3 linked regions of the Homo sapiens genome follow. The protein of the gene in region 1 interacts with the protein of each later gene in a pairwise test. Each region holds a gene or a part of one and is shown in the gene's direction. Other genes may lie near its edges.

The links.
Region 2: the proteins of CA8 (region 1) and KLHL8 interact in binary tests that used the Homo sapiens proteins (3 or more experiments, as listed by UniProt).
Region 3: the proteins of CA8 (region 1) and SPDL1 interact in binary tests that used the Homo sapiens proteins (3 or more experiments, as listed by UniProt).

Annotation. Positions count from the first base shown.
Region 1 is NC_000008.11:60,186,688-60,195,079, reverse strand, and holds part of CA8 (carbonic anhydrase-related protein), read left to right. Parts: intron 1-5,094; 3' UTR 5,095-8,392. UniProt on the Homo sapiens protein: Does not have a carbonic anhydrase catalytic activity.
Region 2 is NC_000004.12:87,210,619-87,217,618, reverse strand, and holds part of KLHL8 (kelch-like protein 8), read left to right. Parts: intron 1-7,000. UniProt on the Homo sapiens protein: Substrate-specific adapter of a BCR (BTB-CUL3-RBX1) E3 ubiquitin ligase complex required for The BCR(KLHL8) ubiquitin ligase complex mediates ubiquitination and degradation of RAPSN.
Region 3 is NC_000005.10:169,579,969-169,586,772, forward strand, and holds the start of SPDL1 (protein Spindly), read left to right. Parts: upstream 1-3,804; 5' UTR 3,805-3,921; intron 3,922-4,111; exon of another isoform or gene 4,112-4,198; intron 4,199-6,804. UniProt on the Homo sapiens protein: Required for the localization of dynein and dynactin to the mitotic kintochore.

The DNA of each region.
Region 1 (8,392 bases):
TCAGCCTTAACTTCATATATTCAAAGTGTTACTTCTTTAGGTGGTTTTACCAAATAAATTTGTATTCTGATTACTAACTAATGTAGTTATTGTAGGAACTTTAGAAAATACACAAAGGCATAAAAATGAACTTATATTTCAAATAATGACCATCAATTGAAGGTAGGCAACTAATTTTGTTTCCACCACAGACTGCATTAAAATAACAGGAAAGAGATTTTTTTTTAAGTGCATTGCCTCACAAGGATACAGAAGCAAGAGAGGAGACAACAGCCACAATACTTTGGAAGCTGGAAGCAGATGGTCTTGTAACAGATTTAGCAGATGTGAGGAACAAACCCGTTCGCATGATAGAATCTCTCAAATTCCCAGGAATTGGTGGCAACAGACATCATCTGGAAGCTGGAGTAAAAGGAGGCTAAAGACATCTGTATTGGTTGAAAGCTATTTAAGAAGCACTTAATCTCTCAGCCCCCTCCAAAGCCTTGGTGGACTGGAGATACTTGTCTTCTGGAGATGATTAAGAGAGAGACTCTGTACTTGGGGACACAGACACAATTGAGTGAGTAAATAACATCCTCAGACCTCATGTCATCCTCCCATACACTGGCAGAAAGGCCCCTACTCTCCAGATGAAGCTGGAAGTATCTTCTGGGGAGGGTCTGACCAGCCCAGGTGACTTCTCTGCAGAAGTGGACCAACGGGCTTATCCAGTGGTGATGGTGTAATAAAGAGGCCTCCACGGTGCCCTCCGCCTCCACTCTGGTTTTGTTGTAGTGGTTGTTTGCCAGTCCCAGATATGAACAGTTACAGATATTTGAAGAAGAACTGTAAATGAAAGAACCCAAATCAGACAATAAAGTGAGTTAAAAGACATAAATACTTTGTAAGAAGAGAAAAACTGTCAAGAAGTTGTCACTCATATATTTGGAGAGGTAAGGAAAGAAATTGCATTCACAAAAAAAACAGGGTGCTATTAAGAAAGGAATATTTAGAAAACAGAGCTTTTGGAAACTGAAAGCATGATAGCAGAAATGAGAACTTCTACAGATGAATCAGAAGGCAGAATTGAAAATTCTCAGAAATTACAGCAAAAGGCAAAAAGATGAAAAATACAGTAATGTAAGCAAATTAGAGGACCAGTTTAAGAGGTCTATCGTCCACGTAATAAGCTAGAGAGAGAACACAGAAAGTGGAGGAGAGGAATCAGGCAACAAAATTATCCAAAGCATTTCCCCAGAACTCGTGAGCATAAAGTTACAAATGGAAAGAATCCACTGAATTCCCAGCACAGTAGATCAAAACACACTCACACCAAGACACCATCATTGTGAAACTTCAGAACATGGAGGGAGAAATTCCAGAATGGCAAAAACCAAAGCAACAAACATGTCAAAATCAAGGAATCTGGAATTTGAATACCAGACTTCTCAAAAGCAACGCTGGAAGCTAAGGCAGTGAGCATGACCTTCAGAATTCTGAGGGAAAATTACAACCCACCAAATTCCTTACCTAGTCAAACTTTTAACCCAGTGTGTGGTTACAGTAGTCATTTATAGATATCAAAGCCACCACAAATTTATTTCCCAGAAGCTACTTGATATTGCCACACCAAAATGGAGTAAGCTAAGGAAAAAGATGTGGGATCCACGAAACAGGAGAGCCAGCAAAGGAGAAAAACCAAGGGGATGAATAAATGCCAGAATGACAGTAGAATGAGATCATAGGCAAACCAGGCAGTCAGTCCAGATGTGAGCAGGTGAGAAGGTTCTAGATGAGCTTTCTTCAGGAATGGTGAAGTTGATACAATGCATGATATATCTTCACTTCTTGAGAGGAGAGCTAGGCAATGGGTAGGTATTTGTGCATTGAATCAGTTATGAGCACGTAGAACACTTAGGTGGAAAAACCCAAGGTATTTATCACTCCAGAGAAAACAAAATGTTGTGCAGGAAAGAAAAATTAACACATGTAGTTCACCTCTGAATACTTTTACATCATTACAATAATAGAAGTTGCATAATTGATTCAACCAGATTTACTATATAGCCATATTTGGAGGATGGGGTGATGGGAAGATGGGAAGGGTTCATATGGGGTGGGGTGTGTGTGTGTGTGTGTGTGTGTGTGTGTGTGTGTGTGCATGATGTTGACAGGAGGAAAGAGGGTCAAATCTTCATTCTCCATAGGAAAAATTTATACATAATACTGAAACAAAATTGAAAGGTAGCAATACAATCATGCCATTTAGCTCTCTAGTGTTAAAATAATCAGCTAAAAGAGTTAAGGAGAAGGAAATTGGTGACACATAGGACAAGGGACTGATAGTTTCATAACAAACATTTAAAAACTTTAAGCCTTTATATGCATGCATAATTTTGATATAAATAATATTAGCAATTGCTACTGTCATTTTGTTGCACTTATTTATGCATGCACACACACATTTTCTGAGTGCTTTGGGTCAGGTGTTGGGCTGGAGCTTGGGAATACGGAACAGATGAGACCAAGCATTACTTTATCCTATGAAAACTTTCTCTAAAACACTGAAAAGTAAACTTCCAACACATGGCATAAACATAATGGGCCATACTTCACATTTATGTTGGAGCACAGTATTGTAGTTTAATTTTTAGCTAGTGAGATGATTTTAAAATCAACCAAAATTATTACTTATAGTACTATGCTCAGCACATGATATCTGCTGTCATTACAGTCCCACACATTCCCTAAGAAGTAGATATTGTCTGAGTCTCAGAAGGGGCAAGTAAATTGCCTAAAATCTTACAGCAAATTGGATAGAAGAGCTGGGATTTGGACTTGGTTCTCCCTCATTCCAAATCCATACCCCAGATTGTGATTTCATTGAAACATTTTTTCAGTTAATCTGGTATTTGCAGTAAACAAGATCAAGTGTACATTTTTGAGGCAGGTAAAGCTAATAAGATCATCATCATATGATCTTGGCATAGGTGGGTGTCATTTCTTTGAAAAATATATAAGTAAGAAAAGCTCAATAGCATAGGGTATTGAGTTTCCCCATGTGAGGGAGATTTTAACTGAGTGAGTGTGCAAATTCACCAGCAGATTCTACACGTAGGTAAATTAGAATTCATTCAGCATTTACCAAGAACCCCCTGAATCATGCCCTGAGAGCTTCAAAAATGAATAGGACACCAACATGTATGTGCATCTGTTGCACTGTGGATGTATACTAAATGTTAAATTCTGCTTTGGCTTGAGACCTGACCTCGTATGATTAGAATGACTGTGTATTTACCTACCCATATTTTATTTCATGTTTTGGGCCATGGTAGCTTAATATTTAGAAGGCTGGATATATTCTTTATAATGAAATTTCATAAACTTAGGATACATGCTTCTAGACCAGCCTCTCCCAAATGAGTTCTGCAGCGCACTGGTCCTCCAAAATGTGTGTTAAATCAAGAGGTGACTGTTCACATATATCTGGAGAATCCTGGATGTAATAATATCCTCCTTTTGGAGATTTGCAATGCACATCAGCATATTAGAGCCTCTGAAATGGCTTTGAATTAAAGAACCATATTTTAACAGAGTTGATACAGTATTTTTTAACATGGATTCGTTTTTTCAACCAGGTTGTTGTTTTTTATGGAACATAGTTTGGGAAACACTGGACCCCAGGTTATTTCCTTTTGCAGAAAATAAATACATTGTGACCTTTAGGCCCCATTAACTCTGAATTGGTGTGATTTTACAGTTTGATAATCAATTTCATATCACTTTCTTGAAAAGTGCTAAAAGTATATTTTTAACTATGTGAGGTAATACACATGCTAATTAGCTCGATTTAGCCATTTCACAATGTGTATATATTTTAAAACATTTTGTTGACATGATAAATATCTACAATATTTTCTGTCAATTTAAAAAGATTAAAAAATTTAAAAAGATTTTATTGTGACTATCATATTTGAAATGTAGTTTGGTCCTGGTAGAGTGGGAGCAGGAAAAAATATATAGTTTGGAAATACATAACCCAGCATTATAAATATTTTCTAATAAATTTTTCCAGACATTCTATATATTTGTATGTATCTATGTTTATATATGTATGCATATGTAGAAATGTGTGTGTGTATATATATATATATATATAGTGTGTGTGTGTGCAGGTGTGTCCACAGATACATATATACTATATATGCATAATTCTGAAATACTGCATAGTAATATAATTTATTAAGGAAAGGAGGCTATTTTGTTTTATTATTTTTTCTTTTTTTCCAAAGGACATTGCCCAGAAGGAGGCCATTTAGTTTGTTTCCAGTTTCTTTTTGCAGTGAATATCCTTACACATAGACTCTTTGTATGATTGGATAATTATATGTCTATTATAAGTTCCTAGAATTCCAAGTCCAAAAGTATATGCATTCTAAATTTTAATAGAGATTTATTACCTACCTTAGGCAACTAATAAGACTGCAAATTTCCCACTGCCATTGCTAGCAATGCTAGTTCAACATCAAAAAGTTCAGTATCATTGAACTAAAATCTTAGCTGATGTTGTTTTCCTATATGAGAAGCACATTATTTGTTATCTCAAACAAGTACTATTGTCATATATATATATATATATATATATATATATATATATATATATATTCTGCATTTATTATTTATTTAATAGAATTGTAAGTCATTTGGGAATTAGGAATGAAGGGGTCTGTGTGCTCTTGAGCTACCATCCATCTGTGATTATTATATGTGAAATGAATGACAAGAACTTAAAGCTTTATTTTTATTATTTGACATGATATACATATTTTTTGTTTGTAAAATAGTTCAAGCATTATTTATTTTGGATGAAAGTATTTGCTTCTGTGAAATCCTGCATTAATAGGTCTGCCATAGAAATAAAATTATGGTAAACTTTGTGGAAAAATTGCAGAGATAACAAACTTGAGCACAAAGATATTTTTGAAATTTCCACATTTTCTTATGAAATTTTTAGTTTTTACTATCTCTTGTACTGTAAAAAGACTTTTCAGTCTGCTGTGGAAGAATATCAGTAACATAATTGATTCATTTTTTTTTTTTTTTTGCCTGAAGGAGGAAGACAATGGTCCTATAATGCCCTTGGATAAGAAAAGGAAACTTTTGAGCTGCACCTTCAGTTTATCCTCAAAGCCTGCGTTGTTTGTCTTCATCTAATCCAGCTTTGATGGACATCTGTGATGGTTGCCTGTACACTTGCTGAAATGAAATATTAGAAATGGCTGTATATTCCAAAGAAACCCTATATTATATATCCACATTACTGCTGCTAGGATTCATAGTTGCACATACTGTTTATTGCTTATGTGTAGAAGGAATGAAACTAGTTTCCAGAGTTGTTATTAATATGAATATATATCATGTGTTAATATTGAGAAAGGAAAAATACATTCCCGGTGTTAGTAGTTCTTCATTTCCTGTCTCCAACAGAAAATTCACTCATTTTAGAACTAGTGTAATTCTTGATAATAAAATAAGAGTTTTGATTAAGAACAGCATAGAGCTTCAAAATGCAAAGTGAATGATTAGTAAAATTATGTCTCATTTTATTTTTTCAGCACCCATACCACAATTAATATTAGGCTGGATTGCCATGGGAAACATTTTTTGGCATTAATGCAGCAACATAATACTCACTTTAGGTATTACTACATAGTTGAAGGATTTAACTGAATGTATGGATCAAATTTATTTATTTGACATATTCGAAGCTGTGGTTTAATAGGAATTTGAGAAAGGTGTAAGAAATAGGATAAAAAGAAGGTCAGCACCATGTACCAGGAATAGCTTTACTTTCCATACATAGAAATATAAATTTAGTGGTATCCTATATTACTTTAGTGTCGTACGCTTTGTAAGACTTAAATATTTTATTCTATTGATTCCACTACTTTGGTATGTTAAGACATTTCTTTAAAGATGACCAACAATATCCTTATTTTAGGTGCCACTAGCAGATGTAAGCGTATACTTAGTTGCCGTTAGATGTGACAGAATGAGATAATTTATGTAAAGCAGTAGAGTACCTGGCACAAAGCAAACAATAAATATTATTGTTATTGTTGTTATAATTGTAAAATGAATGACTTCAAAAACATAGTCCCAGTTTGGAGGGATTTTGTGATGCAGAATATCTAAGTCATAGAAATAGAAGACAGGTGGAATAAGTATATGTTCAGAGTTTTTAGATGTGTTGAGTAGAGACGGTAATAATGGAAGCATTAAATACAAATGAAAATCACACCAGATATCCCTGAAATTCAAGCAAAGAAAGTTCATCATGTATTCTTGGGCAGCAAGAGAAAGGACTAGGGTTATGGCAATGTGTGGAAAAGTTGAGGCTTGCTAAGGGTTGAGATCTGTTGGTAGCCCTGGATCACATGGGGTCAGCACCAGGCAGTGCCTCTGAAAGCGGAGAGAGGTCCTGGACTTCCCTTGTGTATAACAGTTCCTAGTGTCCAACAATGAGGAAACGGTGAAGCATGGTTACAAAACTGTGACAAAAATATTTACATCTAGCACTGTTACCACTCACATGCCAAACATTGGCTGCACACGTGCAGCCTTATTTGTAATTAACATCAAAAGACTAGATCTGAAGCCTTCCATAAATGAGAGGCCATTCATATGGCATTCCTGGAACAAAACACTGCACAGGTACCAGCCTCTCCACTCCTGACCGGGTTGGTGCTGAACAGTCAGGGATTGTTCTTGAACTAGACTTCTGATGCTTCTTGCAATCTTCTTTCATCTTTCCCTGAAATACACAAAATAAACAAATACAATAACAAATAGTAATTAAATGACTTTCAGGATAACATCTAGTTGTTCAGACTTCACCCTTCACAGGTGTGTGTGTATGTGTGTTTATGTCTGTATATTGAAGCAATTTGAATTTATTTACTGTATATTTTCTGAGTAAAAGACTGAAATGAACTACTTGGTTCAGATCATGGTGTCCATTGGTGACATTGTTTGGAGGCATAATATTCTTTATATGGAAAATCCTTTAATTCCACAGTTAGTTACCTCAGATTCAGAATATGAATACTGTTTATAATACGCTTTTGTAGGAATGAATTTGAAAGGTAGTTTGTCAGTAAACGAAAGCACAACAACTAATCTCAAATCTGTTTTGATGGTGTGATAGGAAAGAAAGTAAAACCTATGTGATGGACCCTGTAATTGGGGCAGGAATCTCCCAAAGAAAAAGGGGAGAATTAATGACAAATGTCATAGATCTTGAAATTTAATTTAGGGTGCATTTTGTTTATGAAACAATTTAATAAGGCAACAAAGTGAAATGATTTTTCATGTAGCTTATACACATGTAAGTGCCTCTGATTCATGGTAACTAACGTACCTGATGGTGTGTAAAGTAATACTGTTGTCAGAAGGTTTGCCAATTAAGATAATTTGAGTTTACTCTTTTTTTGTTGGTTAGTTTAGCTGAAGGCTTGTCAATTTTATTGATTTTTTTCAAGGAGCCAAAGTGGATTTTGGGGTTTTCTCTATTGTGTTTGTATTCTCTATGTCATCAAACTCTGCTCAAATCTTACAAAATAGTAAGATTAGTAAGAAAGCAGACTAACTTCTGCTTGCTTTGTATTTAGTTTGTGTCTTTTCCAGTATTTTAAGGTGGAAGGTTAGGTTATTGATTTGAATTCTTTTTTGAATAAAGGCATTAACAGTTATAAATTTTCCTCTGAGCATTGCTTTAGCTGCATCCAATAAGTTTTGGTATGCCATGTTTTTGTTTTCATTCATCTCAAGGTATTAGAAAATACTTTGCCTTTTAATTTCTTTTTGATGCAATGGTTATTTAGGAGTACATTGTTTAATTTCCACATATTTATGAATTCCCAAATTTGTTATTGATTTATAATTTTTTTCTGTTGTGATCAGAAAACATACTTTATATGATCTCAGTCTTAAATTTATCGAGGTTTGCTTTCTGGCTTAGCATATGGTTTATCCTGCAGAATAATCCATGTGTACTTAAGAGTATGTATTGTACTGTTGTTGGATGCTGTGTTCTATAGATAGATGGCTGTTAGGTCTATAGTGTTGGCCTGTTGTGTTGTTCAAGTCTTCTATTTCCTTGTTGATATGCCTATTTCTGTCTATTATGAAAGTAGTGTATTGAATTCTCTGACTGTTGTTGAATAATCTCTTCCTTCAATTCTGTCAGTTTTTTTCTACATTCATTTTGGGACTTTTGTCCTTCTTTATCTCTAGTAACATTTTTTTATTTTAATATATACTTTGTCAGATATTAATATAGCTGCCCCAGCTTTCTTATAGTTGCTATTTGTATGATGTATCTTTTTTCATCTTTTCACTTTCAACTTAT
Region 2 (7,000 bases), on another chromosome or scaffold:
ATCCTAGCACTTTCAGAAGCCAAAGCAGGCCAATTGCTTGATCCCAGGAGTTCCAGACCAGCCTGAACAACACGGCGAAACCCTGTGTCTACAAAAAAACAAACAAACGAACAAAAATTACCCAGATGTGGTGGTGTGCACCTGTGGTCCCAGCTACTCGGGAGACTGAGGTGGGAGGATCACCTGAGTCCAGGGAGGTCAAGGCTGCAGTGAGCCATGATTGCATCACTGCACTCCAGCCTGGGTGACAGAGTGAGACCCTATTTCCCCCCACCCCCAAAAAAAGCAAGAGATGAGGGAGGATAAATGTTTCATAAAATAACAAAATGTTGTTTTCAGTCGCTAAAATTCACTTGACTATGTCTTTTTTTTTTTTCTGAACAAAATGGTTTATATTAGCCAAAGAAACAAGAGGGAGTTGAGCATTTTAAATAAATTAATTTTTGTTTACTCATGTCAAGATATGTCTGCAATAAAAATGTCACCCATTAGTCTATTTTTAAAAATTCTGTTTTCTCTGTTTTGAGGAGCTTTTATGGAAGCACCAGACTATAATATTGTTCTGAGCTCACTTCTGGTACTACACAATTCTCTATTAGAATCCCAGATCTCCACTTATTGGCTGTGTGAGCATGGCAAGTAATTTTCTAAACCTCTTTCCTTAGCTGTGGAAGGGGGATAAAAATAATACGTACTTCTATTTTACCAGAATTGAGGATTATTTGGTGTTGTATGTGAAAACATTCTCTAAGCTATAATCAACTATAATATTCATTGATATTACTAGTCACATGCTGTATTTTAAAATGCTGCCAGTACAATTTATTTTCTGGTGGATATTGCTATATAGATACTGTCAGCTGCTTTTTTTTTAAATGGGTTGGTCATGCAAGAAAGTATATTGTTTGGTTTGGTTATGAATGATTTAGTTGGTTCTTATGAGTCAGAGAGAGAATTATGGAAGAGGGTTGGAGGGACCTTGGGAAATTTTCTACTTCATCTCTCTGACTCTTAACCTGAATCTGTTAGCGTGAGCATAAATGGTCTTCCAAGGGTCTGTGAACTCTGTATATTTATACTTTTCTGGGGAGAAATTAAATGAAAATTTATACTTTTCTGGGGAAAAATTAAATTAAAAGAGCATCATGACCTTGTTCCCACTAAAGGTTTAGGAAACCACTAGCTTCAATGATCTAGGCAGGTTTCTTTAGTAAAAATGTTAGAGATTATTTTTAAAATTAGTTTTTTGTGGAAAGGAAAGAGAAACAGGTTATATTGCGGAAAGGAAAGAGAACAGGCTATTTTTGAAGCACTGAGTATCTGTTTTTCTTCCAAAGCTAGAAGTTGATATTTATGATACACTACCTTCATATGAATAATAGTGCTGCTACTTCTACCTGGAAGTGGTACCTTTGATTGATTCATTATCATTAGGCAGGTATTGTCTACTCCTCTCTTCTTCCCCACCCCCAGCCTTGATGGGCAATACAGTGGAGGCAGAGAATGGGACTTTAATACAATCCAGCATGTCAGAATATTATTTAAAATGCCAAAAGATAATTTGGCTTGTTTATTCTAAATTTGGATGTTCTTTGTTTTCACAACAAAACACCCAATGTTAAAGAAAATTAAGTGTTTAATCTTTCAAACTAGATGATGATATATACATAATCTGTTGTATGATATTTCTTGTATATCATAGAGTATAAAATTTTATTAAATCCTAATTGATGATCACTTTGACTTTTAGTACTGCTAGTTTGAAAAGATGGATATGTATGTTTTCAAGAAATTTACAGTTTGCTTTTGTAGATTATATTATAATTTGTGATTTTCATTTATAACATTTAAAACTTATTTGCTTTTTTTGAATTTCTGAATCGGACATACTTTTAAATCTGAGTTTATTCTTATAAGAATAAGCGTTTGGAATTTTGCCCTGTTTTCCTTGTATAATGATTGCTGGGCTATAAGGCTTTACAGTGTAAAACCAAGTTCTGTTCTGGATCAGTTACTAGTAGCATTCCCAAGGCTGGGAGAGTATGAGGTGGATCAAGTGATGCTAAACAAACTTGTGAATGAATCTGTCCATCAAGTAATGTCTTTTTCCTTGAGATCTTTTTTTCCTTTGATATTAATATTTTCATTTAAAGTTGAAATGTTTTTCAAAGTTCAAGGTTCTAAACCAATATTTGGGAATTTATAGAATAAAGTAGCAGAAGTGTGGTTCTTTGTAAAAATAGTCTGAGAAGTCTGAAATAGACCTCAAAGATTAGTAGTAGAGATGAATGCCAATATTGCAGCATACTTTATATATAAAAGATAAGTCACTACGTTGGATCTTTAGTTATTTTAATGCAGAGGATTGCTTAACTTTAATAATGAAAGTTTGAATTAAATTAATTAGATATGGAAAACAAAAGGGAATAATTTCAGCAAAAATTTTACCTATGGGAATCCAATCATTTTAAGATCAGTGATTTGTATGGCTTCTCCTACACTTAAACCTTAAAAAATTCTGGCCGAGCGGGGTGGCTCACGCCTATAATTCCAGCACCGTGGGAGGCCGAGGCAGGTGGATCACTTGAGGCCAAGAGTTCCAGACCAGCCTGGTCAACATGATGAAACCCTCTCTCTACTAAAAATACAAAAATTATCTGGGCATGGTGGTGCACAGTTGTAATCCCAGCTACTTGAGAGGCGGAGGCTGGAGGATCATGTGAACCCAGGAGGAGGAGGCTGCAGTGAGCTGAGATTGTGCCACTGCACTCCAGCCTGGGTGACAAAGCAAGACTCCATCTCAAAGAAAAAACAAAACCAAAAAAAAACCTTTAAAAATTCCTGAAACATTTCCTGTATAGGGAGAATATTATTAATACCACTATTTTGGTTCTCATTGTCATTTACACATAGGCACCTCCATACAGAGATAACATTAATTCTGTCTTTGGCCTAGTGATAAGAGCTTGGGCTTTGTAGTCAGGCAAGTCTCTATTGAATCCTCGACATTGCACTTCATAGCTATGAGACCTTGGTTAGGTGTCTTAACTTCTCTGGGCCTCATTATCCAAAACTGCAAAAAAATAGGAATTTTACCTCTTTGAGTTATCCCAAGGATTGAAATGAATACATGTAAGTATTTAACTCATGATGACAATTATATATATATATATATATATATATATATATATATATATATATATCTGTTATGTGCCAGTTTGTTAACTCATTTAAGTTTTATAGCAATCCTATGAGGTTGATACTATTATTTTCCTCATTTTTACAGATGAGGAAACTAAAGCTAATGAAACGTTATGTAACTTAACCAATATCATACAATGAATATACAACTAATAAGTAGATAGAAGCACCCAATTAATGCTTGCTGTTGTCATTAAAAAAAAAAAGATGACTTAGGGTATTACCATCTTTTCTATAGTGGGTTCCTAATAATTGCAATCTCATGTAGAGCATTATAAAGCATATTTTATTTCTTTGCTGGAAAAAATGTTGATTGCAGGACTGTGTTCCTGACCAAGGACTCAGGATCACATAATTTATAAAAGTAATAACATCTGTTTATTGAATCTTACTATGTACTAGATACAGAGCTAAATACTTTATATAAATTACTTCACTTACCCATCACAACAACCTTAGAGCTGAGGCTCAGAGTAATTTTAAGTAACTTGCCCGAGGCTGCACAATTAACACAGAATCCCAAAACTGTCTAGCTCTAAAGTGTCTGCTGCTAACCGCCAGTTTATGTGCCTTGTGTCGCGTATGGCTGACAGATATCTCTCAAAAGCAAGGCAACAGCTTCTATAATTTTAAATAGCAAAATGTGCTACTGTAATTTTGAACCAGAAGGAAACTGATTACCTACTGCCTGTAGGCTAAACCAAGCTTGCTGCCTGTTTTTGTAAACAAAGTTTTATTGGAACACAGCCATGCTGTGTTCTTTTAAAAATAAAGACATTGAGACACAGAGAGATTAGGTAACTTCCCAGTAATGTAGCTAGTAGTAATCTAATGTCAGTAACTATGTTAATAAGCCTCTGAAAGTCTGCCAATCCCTGAATCCCATGCTACCCCCTAAACTCTATGTAAGCTCAGCAATGTGCTCTATTCAGAGGGACCGTGCCTGGATGGCATAGCTATCCCTTCAGTAAGTAGTAAATTCAGCTTTGTGCTTTTCGTTTGGTTTCAAACATCCAGTGTGAAATATTCCATACTTTGATACTTGGCAACAAATTATTGATAAATTAATTTTTTAGTAGGCATTGTTATCTTAAGTACAACCCTGTCACTTCTCTGACATTCTCAAATAAAAATAATGAGTAATATAGGCCCCTGTTAAGGTTCATGCATGTAGTTCGCATATTTAGGTAAAATTCAAGATCTTTCTTTTAATACTTTATACTAGACTTTTAGACCACTATGATTGTGATAAACTAAGTGGCCCAGTTCAAACAAGGAAATGATTACTGTAAGGTGTCAAAGGAATTCCTTTTTAATAAAACAGATCCCAAAATAAACATCTTACAAAGTATTCAGTGTAGTGAAAATGTTGTTTATAGACCCTAGAAATGACATTAGTATTTAACAAGCAGGCTTTGATAATAGTAGTATCTAATATTGCGTGTGTCATTTAAGGATGGGGATACACTCTTAAGAAACATGTTAATAGGCAATTTTGCCATTGTGCAAACGTCATAGAGTATACTTACACAAACCTAGGTGGTATAGCCTACTACACACCTAGGCTCTGTGGTGTAGCCTGTTGCTCCTGGGTTACAAACCTATACAGCATGTAGTAACATGCTGAATAATATAGTCAATACTGTAACACAGTGGTTACCTATTCGTGTGTCTAAACAGAAAAGGTACAGCAAAAATAAAGTGTTATAATCTTATGAGACTATCATCTATGCATTGGTCACCATCATCATCTATTGTGGACCAGAACACTGATATGCAGCACATGACTGTAAAGACTGTAAATGCTATTGTTAAGAAAATTTTTTTTTTTCTTTTTGAGATAAGGTCTCACTGTGTCGCTTAGGCTGGAGTCCACTGGCAAGATCATGGCTCACTACAGCCTTGACCTCCCTGGGCTCAGATGATCCTCCTACCTCAGTCCCCTGAGTAGCTGGGACTACAAGTGCAAGCCACCTCACCTGGCTAATTTTTTGATCTTTTGTCGAGACTGGCTCTCACTATGTTGCTCAGGCTGGTCTTGAACTCCTGGTAGGCTCAAGCAGTCCTCCCAGCTCATTGGTAACTGGTTGTTTTTAGCTTTTCAGTTTTCAAAAAAAAATTACTAGGTTGTATAACTCACAGCCTAAGTCATCAAGATATTTCTTAAAAGGTGGAACTGTTACATGAGAGGGCACGTAAATTAAAAAGATTTTGGATATCTTAGCTAAATGGAGCCTAGGAAGGCTTATATGAACAGCAGTGTGAGAGTGTTTATTTCCTGACAGCCCTACCAATTTTATTTTTTGTCTTTGGCAATATTTAATTTCATTGATTAATAAGGATTTTTAAATATTCTCATTGATCATTTTCCCTTTCATTAAATCTACCTTTTTTCTATACGTAAGGACAGTTTTCAGCAGACAGTGTTGCTGTACTACTAACTGAAGGCCATGTTATTGTTGGTCTTTACTCAGTTATTGTTCAAGAACACATCTGTCTAAAAGAGGACTCTGACATCGAGCTGTTGCAGGCATCTAATTCACACTTAAGTTTAACTATGACTTTGACTTCAGCACCAGTGACCTCTCTAATCAGTCTTTCCAGTAACCTACTAGATCTCTCCATTGGGTCTCCTATCAGTGTTGAATTTCAGCACGCCCTGACTTCCAGTTAGGAAATTATTCTTTCCAACTCAGTGATCTCGGCTCATTGCAACCTCCATCTCCCAGGCTCAAGTAGCTGGGACCACAGGCATGTGCCACTATGCCTGGCTAATTTTTGTATTTTTTGTAGAGATGGGGTTTTGCTTTGTTGTCCAGGCTGGTCTCAAACTCCTGGGCTCAAGTGATCTGCCTGCCTTGGCCTCCCAAAGTGCTGGGATTACAGGCTTGAGCCACTGTGCCTGGCCAAGAAAAACATTTTTTTAAAGTCACGGCAGTAATTTGTTGGAAGTCATGTATACTTTGAGTAGGAACTATTGAAGCTATTATACAGTTTTTCAAACCAGCAGATTCTCGTTTAATGATTGGTATATTTTGGACTGTTTGATTCAAAATTTTAAATGTAAATAAAAAGGAAATAATGAGTATAGCCTACTTTTTTCCTGACTTAAAAGTAAAAATGGAAATTTTAAGAAGAGTATTACCTTTGAAATAAAGTGATTCAAAAATTGAAGTAAATGTCTTATGCACAGTGTTACTTTAGTTAAAATTATTTAAGCATACATTAATTTGGATTATAGTAGAAAAATAATCTCTAGTGTTCATAATCTGTTCATCCATTATAAAAATATTTTAAGTACTTCTGTTTGTTTATTGTGTTATATGTGTTTACTGAACATGGGAGTAATAGCAGTGAAGAGAGACGGTGCCTATACTTTAGGGGCTTATGTAGTGTTACAGGGAAGACTAGTAGTGAATAGGCACTTATAAGTATTAAGTATTTTGAATTTGACCAAAAATTGAATAGGGTATACTTTGTGATAAGTATAATGAAAAAAATATCAGACTTTTGTGGGAGCACAGAGGAAGTACACTAGGAATAGGAAGATGTTTTGGGATGGCCTTCCTGAGCAGATGAACCTGGGCTGATCTTAGAAGATGAGCAAGAGTTAGCAGGAGAGAGGGGTGGTAAAGGGCATTTCAGAAAGAGCAGAAAGCCTGAAAGGAGGCAGAGAGGTGTGAAATAGCCTAAAGTATGTGGAAAATTAAACACATTCAGGTTTTGCTCTATGGAACATGGGGTGGGGTTTGCCATTTTGTTATTTCACAAGTATGCAAGAATTGATTTTGGTAAATGC
Region 3 (6,804 bases), on another chromosome or scaffold:
GGGTTATAAAGTTTAAGTACAGAGGGTGTATTAATCTGCTCAGGCAACTGTAACAAAATACCACAGATTGGGTGGCTTAAATAACAGACATTTTCTCACAGTTCTGGAGGCTGGGAGTCCAAGACTAAGGTTGGTTTCTGGTGAAGTCTCTCTCCCTGGGTTGCAGACAGCCTCCTTCTCGCTGTGCGCACTTGGGAGTAGTGGGGAAAAGAGAGGGAGAGATAAAGAGGAAGGGGATCTATCTCTGATGTCTCTTCCTCTTCTTATAAGGACAGTAGCCCTATCAATTAAGGCCTCACCCTTGTGACCTCATTTAACCTAAAGGGCCCTGTCTCCAAATACAGTCACATTGGGAATTAGGGTTTCAACATATGAATATGGGGTGGGGGGCAATGGAGGTGAGGACACAATTCAGACTATAACAGAGGCAGTTAACAAAATCCATTTTTCCAGCTGTCCCAGTGAAAAATCTCTTTGGCTTAGATTCCATCACATGCACATCTTTGAATCAATTACTGTAACCAGGGTGACGGGATATCCTAGAGATGAAAGGTAGCATCAGTTTTAAAGAATTCATATGGCTGAAAATTGAGAAAATAGAAATTATACAAAAGAATAATCAGAATTCTCTTGGTGGGAATAGGAGGAAGGAATTCATGCTAGGATGTTAGCTGTTAAATGTCTACTATATTGGGATGGTGCACTCTTTCTCTGAGAGAAGATTCCCCCTATTTAAAGAAAAAATAGTATAGCTATTAGGCTCATTCAGAGTTCAAGCTGATGCTATACATTGTTGATACAGGAGAGATCGCAGACTGGGTTTCATTATCATTATTACTATTAAACAGTCAAACCCACCTGCCTGGTACAATGATTCATTCTGATATCTAATTATCACAGTGGAAGTTGTGACAATTCAATTTCCTGATCTCTTCTCATATGGCTCCTGTTTTTCTTGTTGGATCCTTATTCTCCTCCTGTGCCATGGATTAGGACAATCCCAAAAGTCCTGCACACACCCCTCCGTTCTCTCTCAAAGCTTTTTTTCTTCATCTCGGCCATCCCCCAAGTTTCAGTGACCACAACCTTGAGTGTAACTTTCGTAACTTCATATTCCAGCCCATCCTATAAATCACAGCACTCTACAGCTTAATCTCATTCTTATTTGCAGACTCTGTGTCTCAGAGTCCTGAGCTTGTTTTTGCTTGATCCCAGCGATGACTAGCTTGCAGCTCTACTTAATAACATGAAGGAACAAGAAAGTCTAAGTCATCCTCTAAGTAAGGATTTACTGTTTATTGTTTGGTAAATGTCTCTTCCACTAAACTCTAAGTTCGTTTAATACAGAGACTATTCATTTGTAATGCCCAAAACAAATGATCATTCAATAAGTTCCTGTCAAAATATATGCAGCTTTCAATATAACGTAACAGTCTAATCCTCTCGTTTCGTCTAGAACAGTCACAATGAAGAAATGATGACAAGTTCACTACAGGAGTCTATCCCAGTTCTGAACAGCTATAATATTAGGAATTGTAACTGAGGGCCACAGAGTTGGGAGGTGGGTGTTGTTTCCCAGAATCTGAACTCCCATCCTATGCTTGGTGAATCCACTACTGTGTGAGGAGGCCAAGTCCCATCTCTCCTTACGTAAATGGAAAATAACAGATACAAGGTTGCTGTTTTTTGCTTTTTCCTGACCTTTGGTATTTAGGCCATGGTATGCGGACCTTGCCTGAGTACGGAGATCTGCATCTGGTATTGTGAATCAGAAGTTCCATTAAGTTATCTTAAAAGTAGAACCCATCTAGAATTCATTTCACTTGTGACATCTAGCGTCCAGTGGTGGTATTGGCAGTCCTGTATTCAGGCCATCCCTAAAGAATGACCTTTATTATGACATGGGGTAACCTCTAAGACTTTCCTAATGCTGTCCCCTCCCCTAGAATGCACCCCTCCTTAGCTCTGCCATCCTTCAAGGCCCTGCTTGAAGTGTCACATGCACTGGGAAGTTTTAAAGGAACATTTAGACAAAATATACCTCTCCCTTCACACAACTCCTTTAGTGTGGGGCACATACCACTTGCATAGCATTTACAGCCCTGTAAGTTCTATTTGTTTTTTAAAATCTCCTACTATATTGCGAGCATCTTCTAGGCAATAGTCGAGTTTACCACATCTCTGAATTCCTCCACTATGCCTAACACATTGCAGTCACTCAATTAATAGTTTAAAATACATATTTTTAAAATAGAATAGGAAGAAACATTAATAACATAGGGTATACCTTCTCTTGTAACAAAGGAGAAAAAATAAGTTCAGATCGATTTTAGATTACCTAATTGCAGCCAGTCATGATTGGCCTAAGCTAGAACAATCTTTTCCTGGCCCCTGAGTTAAGGAATCTTTGTTCAGTGATAGGGAAAATGGTATTTGTTTCATTTCTCCAAGAACATAGGTGTGATTACAAATGAATGAGCATCTGGTTCATTGGAGTCCCAGATAAATCTGTGAGACAACACTGTGAGCAATTTGTTGCCAATCTTAAAGCTCAGATCAACCCTTTGAGTCTGGCTTAGCTCAGGCAGAAATTGTAGTCTGCAAAAGAAACTGAGAAGAAGAGGGCAAGGAGAGTGTGGCATCCCAAGACATAAAGACTCAAATCAATGAGAGCAAGCAACTCTGTCAAATTTCACCAGAAGTGAGGACTAAATATTGACTACCGAATTTTGCAAGGTAGGAATCACTGGTAAACCTAACAAGAGCCACTTCATAGTATTGGTTGGGACCAAATCCTGGTTAAAGTGGGAAAAACAAACAAAAGAACAAAAGGTAAGAAAATGGAGATAATGGATGTAAAGATTTTTTTTCCCCAGAAATTTTGTTATAAAGAGAAGAAAACAAATGGGGTGGTTGCCGATTGGTGTCAAGGAGGATTTTTTAAAAAATGAAATCATGAAATGATTTTATGGCAATCACTGCAGCATGTTTATGAACTGATAGGGAAGATCCAATAGAGAAGAAAAAACTGAAGATGCAAAAAAGAGCAGTTAGAGCCAAGTTCTCAAATAGGCAAGAAAAGATGGGCTCGAAAGAACGACATGATTCATGTAACAGTTACTAGGACTCATCAGTGCTCATTAAATGTTATCTATTATTATTTCTGATCGCTTCAATTTTTGAATAGGCATCAGGGTTACAAAATATTATTATTAAAAACACATGCAAACAGCTTGGACTCTAAGACTGCATTCAATTCTAGTTCTACCACTTGGACAAGGCACTTTTTTTCTTCGGGCTTTTTCTCTGTAGAAAACGAGGAGTAATATCTGCCTCATAAGGCTGCGGGCTTAACTGAGATAATCTGTAAACTTTAACACATGGTGGGAACTTAAATATTAACGCCAGTATTACCACTGGTAGGGTGCATGAGATCGCACGATGGTGCCAAAGGTGTCTCTCCACCGCCCAGCCCAGCGACACTGTTCCCCTAGAAGGCATTGTCGTAAAAACAAAAAAAAAAAAAAAACGAACAAACAAAACACCAAAACACGGAAACTAAAAGCAAATACTTAAAAGACATGCAGGAAACCAGCCCAAGGAAAAATTTATGTGGAGCCACGTCTGCGCCTGCGCCTGCGCCAAGCCCACGGCGCGCCACTTGCACATGCGCAGTAGCTGTAGGAGGGGGTGGGCGCTCCATTGGGCGTTTCTCTTGGTTTTTCCTTTCCGCGCGGCTTGGGCGGACGTCTCGTGAGACGTGGGACTTCTCGCGGGAACTGCATTCAAATATCCCAGGCGCTTACTCGAGAGCTAGCTGAGCGAATGGGCCGGCGACTGTGGAGTTAGCGTCCTCAATGTGGACGCCCTGAGCTCCCATTAGGAGCCGCTGGCTGCGGCAGCAGGGGACTAGCGTGAGAGGTAGGGGCAAGGGGCCTGGTGGGAGGTGGGTGTGGAGAGCGGCAGTGGGGAGAGTCGAACAGGCCCTAAAGAAAGCTAGGGGCCGGGGTCTCGGCCGAGGCCTTTAGCTGAAACATCTCCTTCCCCGGAACCCTGGGGTCTTATACACTGGGTTCCGAGCCGGTCTTATCTTCCGCTGGACCACCTCGCCGCCCTCAGGGATTCTGGACAAATATGGAACGTTGGGTCGGTTGCCGGGTCCTCAAAATTATAACCGCCACTGGATCTGCGCTGTGCGGTACGGTAGCCTCTAGCCCGAACTAAGAAATGGTGCAGATGGGAGATACATATTGGGTTTCAGAGATAGCGCATAAGGAGTAATATCTCATTAATAATTTTTATAATGATTACATGTTGAAATGATGTTTTGAGTGTATTTGTTTAAATATGTAAATTAATTTTTCATCTTTGTTTACTTTTTAAATCATGATGGCTCCTAGAACATTTAAAATCACGTACATGACTCGCGTTATATTTCTGCTGGACAGCACTGCCCCAGCCGTGTGTCAGATTCTACCCTAATTGCTTTTCATTCGTTATCTCATTTAATCCTTTCAGTAACCGATTAGGTGGGTGTTATTGTGCTTGTTTTTATAGATGATTAAACCAGAAATTAAATAACTTGTCCAAGTTCATGCAGCCAGTGAGTAGTGGAGGCGGGGTAAGAACTCAGGCAGTTTGATTCCCAGAGTTTCCTGTGTCCCAAATGCTTTGTGTGTGCTATATTTTTGAGAAGCAGGACAGGAAAAATGGTTGCAGCACCATGGTTTCTAGGTAGATTCTAGTTCCCATCACACTTCGCGTCTTAACTTGCGGGTAACCCTAAGCAAGTTACTTAAAACTTTCTATGCCTCAGCTTGCATGTGTAAAATGAGGGAAATACCTTCAACCTCTTGAAGTTGTTGAGAAGATTGAATAAGAATGTGTATAAAGCGGCCGGGTGCGGTGGCTCACGCCTGTAATCCCAGCTACTCGGGAGGCTGAGGCAGGAGAATGGCGTGAACCCGGGAAGCGGAGCTTGCAGTGAGCCGAGATTGCGCCACTGCAGTCCGCAGTCTGGCCTGGGCGACAGAGCGAGACTCCGTCTCAAAAAAAAAAAAAAGAATGTGTATAAAGCACCAAGCACAATGTCTGTCACACATTAGTAGTTTTTAATCAACCACGGCTATCTCTCTTTGTAGATTGATAGGTTAACTCTTTCTCATCCATTAGACCTCTGCTGAAAAGTTACTTCCTCAGGAAAATTTTTTTGTCCATGTTCCCTTCTACGCGCTGCCCCCCAGATTAGGACAGCTCCCCCTTGTTACAGGCTCAGGTAGCATACATCTGTCTCTCTTGCACTTATCATACTTGTAACTTGATAGTTCAATTACTTGATTTAATGTCTTTTACTAATAGACTAGGATTCAAGAAGACAGGAATATTGTTTTAGGTTGCCATTGTGTTGTCAACACTAGCACAATGTCTCACACAATAAGAATTCCAGCAAATTTTTTGAATAAACTAAAGCAAATTTTTTTTGGCTTCTCTGGATATGCCTGGCTGGAATGTCTTGAGGTTAACCCTATTTTTATTTTGGTAGTTGAGATGACAGTATTTACTTAACTCAAGCTCATCAAGATAATTAGATGAGATAATATATTTGAAGCAGTTAGCATGGCAAATGGTAAATCCTCAACGAATGTAAGTTATTGTGAACAGTACAACATTTAGTTGGCTGGCCGTATCATGTACAGGCTTTGAAAAGGTCTTGCATTTTAGAGCAGTGACTGCCAAGCTGGGATTACCTAGAACACCTTTTTTTCTCTCTTAAACCCTGTATCTCTTCCCTTGTCTTCATTCTCAGTTAAAGACCTTGCTTCCTAATTCATTGATAAATTGAAGCAGTTAAAAGGTTACTTACACAGACTTCCACCACTGTACCTGCTTATCAGCATCTAAACTCATATACTTTGCTTAAATGAAATATCCATGCTTCTATTAAAACCAGTCTCTACATTAAACTTCATCCTGTTTATTCAGGGACATCACTAGCAATTCTCCAGTGTCTTCTAGATCATCAGTTTTTCTTCTCTCCTGGATTTATCCCATGACCTACAAACACTGTTATTTTTTTCCATCTTAAAAATAAAAAAACTTGTCCCTACTTCCTCTCCAACTGCTGCTCCGTTTATCCGTTATCCTTTGCAGCAAACCTGTGCTTGCTATCTTTATCTCCTACCATTCTCTCTTGAAGGCATTCTAGTTAGGCTTTCACCCCCACCTGGATATCAAAACTGTTCTTGTCACCAGAGACCTCCAGGAATTCAAGTTCAATGGCCAGTTCTCTGCTCTCACCTTAATTGCCTTAGCAGCAGCATCTGGCATGATTGATTACTCCCACCTCCTTAATACACTGTTTATTGCCTTCCAGGACAACACATACTCCTGGTTTTCCTTCTACCTCACTGGTCACTCCTGATTCTCCGCTGTCTTCTTCCCTACCTCATAACAGGGTTCAGTCGTTGGTCCATTTCTCTTTAAATACTTTTATCCTCTATAGACTGATAATTCTCAAATTTGCATATCCAGCCAAGATTCCTCTTCTCATATATCCAATTGCCTACTTGACATAGTTCATGTTCAAAACTCAAATTCCTGATTTTATTTCCAAAACATTATTTACATCAGTGCTTCAGCTGATGGCAATTCCATTTTACTAGGTGCTCAGGCCAGAAGACTTGGAGGCATTTTTTACTTTTCCCTTTTTCACACATCCCAAATTATATCTTTCAGAAAATCATATTGACCTTACCTTCAAAACCTTCAAAATCTGGCCATTTCTCACAGCCTCCTATGCTGCCA